Regions from separate parts of the Homo sapiens genome. Here region 1 is linked to region 2. The links come from fine-mapping of genetic effects on gene expression. A gene starts in region 2. The other region holds a variant in brackets. All regions are shown on one strand. Distances are between the middles of the regions.

The links. PIP is the estimated chance that this variant, and not a neighbour inherited with it, causes the effect.
Region 1: its variant is fine-mapped to the expression of RAB35-AS1 in lung (TOPMed, PIP 0.97).

Annotation. Positions count from the first base shown.
Region 1 is chr12:120,274,659-120,280,030 of GRCh38, reverse strand. No RefSeq gene overlaps it. Among named protein-coding and RNA genes, the nearest start is that of PXN, 12 kb to the right of the region's middle. The variant T/C (reference allele first, on the strand shown) is at 3,085.
Region 2 is chr12:120,114,886-120,120,257 of GRCh38, reverse strand. RAB35-AS1 (RAB35 antisense RNA 1) reads right to left here and starts at 3,351. Exons shown (of 1, transcript NR_182302.1): 1 at 1,255-3,351. RAB35 (RAB35, member RAS oncogene family) reads left to right here and starts at 3,505. Exons shown (of 6, transcript NM_006861.7): 1 at 3,505-3,659. The coding sequence starts at 3,608. RefSeq lists enhancers at 262-321, 1,437-1,486, 1,527-1,596, 1,627-1,726, 1,146-1,937 and 2 more and silencers at 2,439-2,617, 2,605-2,664, 2,755-3,104, 3,265-3,574, 3,675-3,804.

The DNA.
Region 1 (5,372 bases), 160 kb before region 2:
CAGTGAGCCGAGATTGTGCCATTGCACTCCAGCTCTGGGCAACAGAGCAAGACTCCATCTTGGGGAAAACAAACAAACAAACAAAAAAACGGGCCGGGCATGGTGGCTCATGCCTGTAATCCCAGCACTTTGGGAGGCTGAGACGGGCAGATCACGAGGTCAGAAGATTGAGACCATCCTGGCTAACACGGTGAAACCCCGTCTCTACTAAAAATACAAAAAAAAAATTAGCCGGGAATGGTGGTGGGCGCCTGTAGTCCCAGCTACTCGGGAGGCTGAGACAGGAGAATGGTGTGAACTCGAGGGGTGGAGCTTGCAGTGAGCTGAGATCGCGCTACTGCACTCTAGCCTGGGCGACAGAGGAGAGTCCGTCTCAAAAAAAAAAAAAAAAAAAAAAAAAAAACCACTGCAGTTAAGACCCCTGTACTGTCTTGTGTGTCAGTCCTGGGAAGATCTGTGAATGGCCTGAGAAGGAGGAGAGAGGTTTGGGCTGGGGGCCAGGAGATTGGGGTTTTCATCCTGATGCTACAACTAATTATGCAGCCCAGCTCACTCATCTCCTGGCATCTCCATGTTGCCAGTCTTTCATTCGTTCAAAAATAGTTACTCAAACCTACCATTCCAGATGCTGGTGAACAAGCAGCAAACAAGACAGACATAGTCCCTGTTCTCATAGCCCTGACATTTTAATGGGGGAGGCAGAGACAAATAATAAACAAGTACACAAATAAACGCAGAATATAATGGCAGAAGGTGAACCTCAACAAATACCAGGGTAAGGAGTCTGATTTGGTGGGGTACGGGGAGACTTTAGATAAAATGTTCAGGACCCACAGAGGTGGCACGTGAACAGCTATGCCAAGATCTGAGATCAGCTATGTCAAGATCCCAAAGTGCTAGGATTACAGGCATGAGCCACTGCACTTAGCCCAATAAAGTTGATTTTTAAAAAAAAAACATAACAGCTCCCTCCCCCTCCCCCATCCCCCTCCCCCTCCCCCTCACCCGCTCCCTCTTTCTTTCTTCGGTCTCCTTCTGTTGCCAAGGCTGGACTGTACTGCCGTGGTCTCGGCTCGCTGCAGCCTCCCTGCCCCGGGCTCCCCTGGTTCTCCTGCCTTGGCCTGCCGAGTGCCTGGGATTGCGGGCACGCGCCGCCACGCCTGACTGGTTTTTGTATATTTGGAGGAGACACGGTTTCGCCCTGTTGACTGGGCTGGTCTCTGGCTCCTGACCTCGAGTGGTCTGCCCGCCTCGGCCTCCTGGGGTACTGGGATTGCAGACGGAGTCTCGGTCACTCAGTGCTCAGTGTTGCCCAGGCTGGAATGCAGTGGCGTGATCTCGGCTCGCTGCAACCTCCACCTTCCAGCCGCCTGCCTTGGCCTCCCAAAGTGCTAAGATTACAGCCTCTGCCCGGCCGCCCCGTCTGGGAAGCGAGGAGCACCTCTGCCTGGCCGCCCCGTCTGGGAAGCGAGGAGCCCCTCTGCCCGGCTGCCACCCTGTCTGGGAGGCGAGGAGCGCCTCTGCCCTGCCGCCACCCCGTCTGGGAGGTGAGGAGCGCTTCTGCCCGGCCACCACCCCGTCTGGGAGGTGAGGAGCGCCTCTGCCTGGCCGCCACCCTGTCTGGGATGTGAGGAGCACCTCTGCCCGGCCGCCACCCCATCTGGGAGGAGTGCCTCTACCCGGCCGCCCCGTCTGTGAAGTGGGCGCCTCTGCCCAGCCACCCCGTCTGGGAGGTGAGGGGCGTCTCTGCCCGGCTCCCCCGTCTGGGAGGTGGGGAGCACCTCTGCCTGGCCGCCCTTCATCTGGGAGGTGGGGGGCGCCTCTGCCCGGACACCCCGTCTGGGAGGTGGGGGGCGTTTCTGCCCGGCTGCCCCATCAGGGAGGTGGGGGGCGCCTCTGCCCGGCTGCCCATCGTCTGGGATGTGAGGGGCGCCTCTGCCCAGCCACCACCCCTTCTGGGAGGTGAGGAGCGCCTCTGCCAGGCCGCCCCGCCTGGGAAGTGTACCCAACAGCTCCGAAGAGACAGCGACCATCGAGAAAGGGCCATGATGACGATGGCGGTTTTGTCGAAAAGAAAAGGGGGAAATGTGGGGAAAAGAAAGAGAGATCAGATTGTTACTGTGTCTGTGTAGAAAGAAGCAGACATAGGAGACACCATTTTGTTCTGTACTAAGAAAAATTCTTCTGCCTTGGGATGCTGTTAATCTATAACCTTACCCCCAACCCCGTACTCTCTGAAACATGTGCTGTGTCAACTCAGGGTTAAATGCATTAAGGGCGGTGCAAGATGTGCTTTGTTAAACAGATGCTTGAAGGCAGCATGCTCCTTAAGAGTCATCACCACTCCCTAATCTCAAGTACCCAGGGACACAAACACTGCTGAAGGCCGAAGGCCGCAGGGACCTCTGCCTAGGAAAACCAGAGACCTTTGTTCACGTGTTTATCTGCTGACCTTCTCTCCACTATTATCCTATGACCCTGCCACTTCCCCCTCTCTGGGAAACACCCAAGAATGATCAATAAATACTAAAAAAAAAAAACAAAAAAACCATAACATTGCCGGGTACTCACGCCTGTAATCCCAGCACTTTGGGAGGCCGAGGGGGGCGGATCTCCAGAGGTCAGGAGTTCAAGACCAGACTGGCCAACATGGTGAGACACTGTCTCTACTAAAAATACAAAAAATTATCCAGGTGTTGTGTCGTGTGACTGTAATCACAGCTACCCAGTAGGCTGAGGCAGGAGAATCACTTGAACCTGGGAGGCGGAGGTTGCAGTGAGCCGAGATCATACCACTGCACTCCAGCCTGGACGACAGAGTGAGACTCCGTCTCGAAATAAATAAATAAATAAAATAAAATAAAATAACATTAGGCTGGTGCCGTGGCTCACGCCTGTAATCCCAGCACTTTGGGAGGCCGAGGGGGGTGGATCACCCAAGGTTAGGAGTTCAGAACCAGCCTGGGCAACATGGCAAAACCCTGTCTCTACTAAAAATAAGAAAAATTAGCCGGGCGTGATAGCGTGCCTGTAGTCCCAGCTACTTGGGAGGCTGAAGCAGGAGAATGGCTTGAACCTGGGAGG[T/C]GATGGTTGCAGTGAGTCAAGATTGCGCCATTGCATTCCAGCCTGGGTGATACAGCAAGACTCCATCTCAAAAAAATTTTTTTAAAAAGATAACATTGGCTTATTGGCTTCTGGGTAGAAAATTGACAATAGAGGTCCAGTTTGGAGGTTCATGCAGTAATCCCAGGCAAGAGAGGGTAGTGCGTGGCTGCACCTAGAGATATAATTGCAGAGGTGAAAATGAGGGGGTGGGGGTGGGAATTGGGCTACACTTTGCAGATGGACAGGCAGAACTGGGTGTGGAAAGCGAGGACGGGGAGGAACAGAGGATGACTTCCAGGTGGACACCCGGTCAACATATGGGGTCCTTAGGTGATAGAGAGGAGGATGAAGGTGGAAATCCAGCCCCCTTCACCTGAGAAAAGGTTGAAGAATCTCTTGAGATCCTTTTTGACCTTATAATTCTTTGTTTTCTTTAACTTTTTTTTTTTTTTTTTTTTTTTTGAGATGGGAGTCTCACTCTGTTGCCCAGGCTGGAGTGCAGTGGCCCAGTCTCAGCTTACTGCAACCTCTGTCTCCTGAGTTCAAGTGATTCTACCTGCCTCAGCCTCCCAAGTAGCTGGAATTACAGGTGCACGCCACCACACCCAGTTAATTTTTGTGTTTTTAGTAGGGACGGGGTTTCACCATGATGGCCAGGCTGGTCTCGAACTCCTGACCTCAAGTGATCTGCCCACCTCGGCTTCCCTAAGTATTGGGATTATAGGCATGAACCACCATGCCCAGACACAATTCTTTGTTTATAAGCCCTTCCAGGCAGGCATGCCATATGGAGAAGAATTCTCAATATCCCCATCTCACAGATGAGAAAACTGAGGCTGAGAGACTCTCCCAGGATCCCCAAATGGGAACTGAGGAAAACTGGAATTCTAGCTCAAATCTTCTTTTTTTTTTTTGAGATGAAGTCTTGCTGTGTCGCCCAGGCTGGAGTGCAGTGGCATAATCTCGGTTCACTGCAACATCCGCCTCCCAGGCTCAAGTGATCCTCCCACGTCAGCCTCCTAAGTAGCTGGGACTACGGGGCCTGCACCACCACACTGGCTAATTTTTGTATTTTTAATAGAGATGGCGTTTTGCCATGTTGGCTAGGCTGGTCTTGAACTCCTGACCGCAGGTGATCCACCCTCCTCAGCCCTCAGACTCTCACAATGCTGGGATTATGGGCGTGAGCCACTGTGCCCGTCCCTACATAGTTTTCTTTAAGTGGACCCACTTTAAAACAAACAAACAAACAAAAAAACCTTATCTTTATCCTAAACAATAATATTGGAGCTGGGCCAGGCGCGGTGGCTCATGCCTGTAATCCCAGCACATTGGGAAGCCGAGGGAGGTGGATTATGAAGTCAAGAGATCGAGACCATCCTGGCCAACATGGTGAAACCCCATCTCTACTAAAAATACAAAAGCTAGCCAGGCATGGTGGTGGGTGCCTGTAGTCGCAGCTACTCGGGAGGCTGAGGCAGGAGAATCACTTGAACCCGGGAGGCGGAGGTTGCAGTAAGCCAAGATTGTGCCACCGCACTCCAGCCTGGTGACAAAGCGAGATTCCGTCTCAAAAATTAAAATAAATAAAATAAATAAATAAATAATATTGGAGCCATCACAGGTTTTATGTGCTAATTAGATAATTTTCTAACACATAAATATGTAACTATTAAAATAAGGAATCTGGCCGGGCGCGGTGGCTCACGCCTGTAATCCTAGCACTTTGGGAGGCCGAGGCGGGCAGATCACGAGGTCAGGAGATCGAGACCATACTGGCTAACACGGTGAAACCCCGTCTCTACTGAAAATACAAAAAATTAGCCAGGCGTGGTGGCAGGCGCCTGTAGTCCCAGCTACTCGGGAGGCTGAGACAGGAGAATGGCGTGAACCCGGGGGGTGGAGCTTGCGGTGAGCCGAGATCGCGCCACTGCACTCTAGCCTGGGCGACAGAGCGAGACTCTGTCTTGAAAAGAAGAAAAAAAAAAAACTGAGCTGGGCATGGTGGCTCATGTGTGTAATCCCAGCACTTTGGGAGGTCGAGGTGGGAGGATTCCTTGAGCCCAGGAGTTTGAGACCAGTTGGGCAACAAAGTGAGACCTCTCTGTGTCTGCAAAAAATACAAATAAAATAATAAATCTTTGTACTAGCTACAACCTCTCATTCCACCAGTGGCAGTTAGTCACACTACATTTGGGAGAATTATGCCTGGGACCACCCTACAGTGTTGCATGTCAACTCAGTACTCATGAAATATACATGATATA
Region 2 (5,372 bases):
CTGGGATTACAGGCGTGAGCCACTGCACCCGGCCACTTAATATTTACTGAATTAAGGATGAATCCAGTTACCAGGTAAATTACGTGATTTTTTTTTTTGGAAGCTGCTTTGTCTAGTTTATAAGTTTGCTTATTGTCTTTTGCATCTGTCCCTGCTGTTACCTTACACCCAGGCTTCAGCAATAACCTTTAAAGCTCTGCAGCTGAAATCCATCCTGCACCCTGCCAGATTACTTCACTAAAATATTTTGAGATTGCCTCTTTGCTCAAAAACTTTCAATGCCTCCTCATCGTATTAATAGTTTCTAATGTGCAAACAGGTGGTGTTGCAAAAGTTCATCTGTAAGTTAGCTGTTCAGAGCAGTGGAACAAAGTTTCCCATTACTGGACACACTGATCCTTTAGGTCACACAAGTTTACATATGTATACAGTGAGAAGGAGAAAGAAAGCTTAACATAACTCATCACTGAACTGTAGTTTAAATAAATGTCTAACAATGTTTCCAGAAGAAAATGTGCTGATTCATTTTGAGATGCCAGGCACATACCCTGGCCTGCAGGGAATTCCCCTCCAAGCCAAATGATGATTCTCATAGACTGTGACAGGGACTGTCTAAATAGACACTCAAAGCTCTCCTATTCCAGTGCCATCATGACATCTTTATGATAAAATCTTCTCCCCATCATTCTAACTAAAAGCTATAGCTTTCCTCCTCTGAAGTCTAGACTGCATATCTGACAGCTTTTCTATCTACTGTATTGTCTTATACTTTCAATTTCCTCATGAGTATGTCTTAACTCTTGATGAGGCTGTGAACTGGTGAGAAAAGGCTCTGTTCCTTTTTTTTTTTTTTTTTTTTTAAGACGGAGTCTTGCTCTGTCGCCTAGGCTGGAGTGCAGTGGTGCAATCTCGGCAACCTCTGCCACCCGGGTTCAAGCGATTCTCCTGCCTTAGCCTCCCGAGTAGCTGGGATTACCGGCGCCTGCCATCGTGCCCGGCTAATTTTTTTTATTTTTAGTAGAGATGGGGTTTCACCATCTTGGCCAGGCTGGTCTTGAACTCCTGACCTCGTGATCCTCCCGCCTCAGCCTCCCAAAGTGCTGGGATTATGGGTGTGAGCCACAGCGCCCGGCCTAAGGCTCTCTTCTTATAACCTCTGCAATCCGTGGCACATAAACACTCATTAAATAGTTACCAAAGAAATGAAGGAATTTATGCCGATTGCTTTCCAGATGACACATGCAGGCAAAGTCAGGAATCTGGTTTTAATGGCCAATTTGGATTTATTTCCCAAAAATATCCTACAGCCTTATTATCAGGAAGCTGCCTTGAAAATGTGTGCTAGAGTCTACAGTAGGAAATGGCTCAAAGTATGAATCAGTGCAAAATGACCTTGAGTAACATTGGTTACAGTCTGTCACATGCCTACATGTGCCAGGTAATTTACAAACATAACTCTAAAACAACCATTCTGTGAGGAAACGGGGGCTTTGAGATAGTGTGATGTGACTTACCTAAGATCACAAAGCTTTTAAGGGATGGAGGCCAGGATTCCAAAGCTAGCATTGGAACGAAAGTCTTCCCGACACCAGCCCAGGTTGTGAAGATGAGCTAGGAGGACCTACTGCCTCGCTGGCTGGTTAGGGCTGGGCGTGCCTCCCTGGTGGAAGGAAGGTACATACCTTCCTTCTCCCCCTCTATTTCCTAAAACTGCTGAGTCAGAGGATGGCCCTAACCTTCCCGACCAAGGGGGACTTTCTATCGGGAGCACATGAGCAGCTCTTCTCCCTAGCCAGTACCTTCAGATTCCAAGCTCATGTTATTTCGATATCACCACACTGATTCTCAGCTCCCGGAAAAACAACTCAAGGCTTGAGTCAGACACTCCATGTGTTGTTCAATGATCCCGCCTGCAACAATGTTTATTATAACCAAAAAATATAAACAGCATGAATGTCTATTAATAGCGGAGTGGTTAAATAATAGTACATCCGATGGTTATCGGATGGAGTACCATACCACGCAGATGTTAAATGATAAAAGTGTACTGTTAAATAGAAAAAGCAAGGTATGTACATATATGTTTGTACAGGCAAAGGAAATTCACTGGGGGGCACTTATTCATTCAACAAATATGTGTTAAGCATTTTAAGGTTACCTGTGAAACTAACAGGGGTTACCTGTGAGGAGTGCTTCAGAAGGAAAAATAGTAACTTGTACTTTTCAGTAAACTTCTGCACATAATTTTAAGGACGAACATTGTTTTTTTTTTTTGAGACGGAGTTTCGCTCTTGTTGCCCAGAATGGAGTGCAATGGCGAGATCTCAGCTCACTGCAACCTCCGCCTCCCGGGTTCAAGCGATTCTCCCGCCTCAGCCTCCCGGCATTGCTTTTTATAAAGTCAAAAGAAAAGGAAGTTTGATAAAACAAGTAGAACTATCCGATAAATACTCGCCTGGAAAGGGACAGGATTATAAGAAACAGGTAATAAGGAGCTTAAAACCCTCTGCAGTTCTGCAGTGAGGATGGTCGTGGGGGCATACAACTTTCCGTTTCAGGTCAGTTTAGGTAGGGCAGGTGGGAACTCACTCTAAAACGAGAAACCGGGGCTGATGACAAAATGCACACGTTTAGCTTCTGGCGGCCCAGGTCTTCCTAGCCGCAGATTCTGAGACGTGTATCTGCAGGTGGTGTGAAATTGAAGCCGGGGGAGCGGTTGCTTTCGGTCTCCGAGGTGCGCCTTGCACACTGGGTCATTCAGCTCCCAGGCTCGGCTCGGAGCTGGACCACTCCCTCCCCTCCACCAAAGAGGCAATGTGGGCTCCAAGAGGTCACAGCGCTGGGATGGGATTTCGACCCCGCGCTGCCCTCAAAGGCCACCTCCTCGCAGCTCTGCTCCCGCCGGCAGCTCCCGTTCTGTCCAACTCGGAAGCCGCCCGCCGCCCTCGGCGTCCACTCCACAGGCCCGGGGCCGGGGCCAGCTCCGCGGGGGAGGGGTCGGTGCGGAAGGGGCGGGGTACCGGGCCTTCCCCGCGCGACTCTGCCTTCTACGGCCCCGGCCCCTGCCTCTGGAAACCCGGAGCTCGTGCGAGCCCCGCCCCACGGTCGCGGCGTGCCTGTCATTTCCTCTCCGCAGGGCGTGCGGGTCTCGAAGATGAGGGAGCAACAACGTCCACGACCGGGCTTCTCCGGCACCTTGGGCTTCTTTCCGCTGGGACTCGACAGCGGCTCGGCTCCGCAAGCTCTCAGCGCCCAGGGTGGCGGCGACGACGCTCCCCGAGGAGACGCGAGGAAGACGGGCCCGCGCTTGCTGGGACTCCGTCAGGGCGCGTGCGCGACCCGGGCGCGGCCGGCTCAGGCTGCGGCTGCGCAAGGCGGTGCCAGACGCTGCGCCTGCGCAGTGGTGGGGCGGGGCGGGAAGGAGGGAGGCGGTGGTAGCGGCGGCGGCTGCTGAGGAGGAGGAGGGGGAGCGGAGGGAGGTGTTTCTGTCAGTTCCGGCTGTTTGTTCGGGAAGTGGATCCGCCGCTGCCGGAGCAGCCCGAAGGGAGCTGCGGATCGCGAGGCCAGTACCGACCCCGCCCGCCCGCGCGCACCGCCCCCGCCCGCCATGGCCCGGGACTACGACCACCTCTTCAAGCTGCTCATCATCGGCGACAGCGGTGAGGGCCGCAGCGGCCGGAGGCGGCGCGGGCCCTGCCGGGCGCGGCCCGCGGGGGCCTCGGGGCGGCAGGCGGGCGGGGAGGTGCCGGCCCGTGCGGGGCGGGCGGGCGGGGCAGCCCGGCGGTCTGGGCCCCAGGGGTGCGCCGAGGGGCTCCGGACCGCGCCGAGGGGAGGTTGGGGCGCGGGGCGGAGGGGCCAAGCGCGCCGGGTCCAGTCATCGCGCCTGTTCCTGCCTCACGTGTGACCTTGGTCAAGTCGCGCGATCTCTGGAGTTGGAGAGACGTGGGTTCGAGTCTCAGGACTACCACCTGCCTCGCGCTGACCTTGGGCAAGTTGCTTCGCCGTCCTGAGCCTCAGTTCCCTCATCTGAGAAGTGGGGATGTGCCTTGCTGGGTGGTGTGAGGATTCGATGGGATAAAGTAGGAAAAGTGCGTAGCGCCCTACCCGGTAAAGTAAGCTCGAAGTAAATGTTCACTATTGTCATTATCATCAGTATCCTTTATAAGCGTCAGTTTCTTCCCATCTAAAATGAGGACGTTCTCAGAACCTGCCTCATGGGATTGCCGTGAGGTTTAAATGAGGTAAGTCGGATAAAGGGCTTTGCACAGGGTCTGGCATATTCCTGCTGAATTATTATATCCCTGCGTGGTTCAGTTTCCTCATCTGTAAGATGGAATGATAGTTGGATCTGCCTTATGGGGTTGATGTGAGTATTAAGTGAGATTCTGCAGTGTTGCTCACAGCTCCTGGCACATAGTGAGTTGTCACTGTTTGCTGTTACACTACTATATACAGAGGGGTCCTGGGGATGGGACAGCCAAAATTATAAAAGTGCTTTGGCCACACACACACACTGCTTGAGGGCTCCTAGCTCTGATCACTGCTCTAGCTCCAGTGCCTAGAACAGTGCCTGGCACCCAGTACATGCTTAAGACATATTTGCAGAAGGAATTAATGAATATTAAGTGTCCTTCGAAAAGGTAGACTGGTTTCTGGGAAAAGGTGGAGGGTTTTAGAGCTGTTTGGAGTGTGGCAGGTGAGCAGGTTTATGGAGTGACCAAGAGGTCAGGAAGGCAGGCCCCAGAAGGTTTATGGGAGCGAAACTGAGGTGCTGGGGTTATATGATGTTCATGAAAGAGTCTTGGGAGCATGCTCAGTTTGTAGACCAGACCTGAGCTGAGTGTGGGGAGGGATGTCTTATGATTGGAGGCAGAGGCCAGGCTGGTGGTAGAGCCCATGGACTGTTAAGGAAAGGGGATCAAATCAAGTGAGCGGTATGACTTGGGATGTAGGAGTGTTGGGTAGCGATGTCAGAGCTAGGTCAGGGAAGTGGGTGGTTTTGGCCTCCCTTTTAAAGCTGGATGGAGATGTGGTTGGTGGTTTGGATCAGGTGAAGGATGGCTGAGGTTTCCGTGGTTGCTGGAGGAGGGGAGAGGTAAGGGGGAAAGCTGGGGGCTAACCAGGGAGATGGAAGAGTAACTGAGGTTGGGGAAGGAGGTAGAAAGGTGGAGTACTGACTGGTTATGGTTTGAATGAAGGGAAACCAGGCAAGCTCTGGAGTGTTCTCTTGGAGATGGCCTTTGGTATTCTTCAGGGTCTTGAGGCTTCTTCCTTTACATGATTTCCTTGCAGCCCTGGCCTGGGTTCTGAGGGACTGGCACTGGGGCCATTTCTCTCTTTTTGGAGTGACAGCCCGCCGTGGTCAGGAGCCT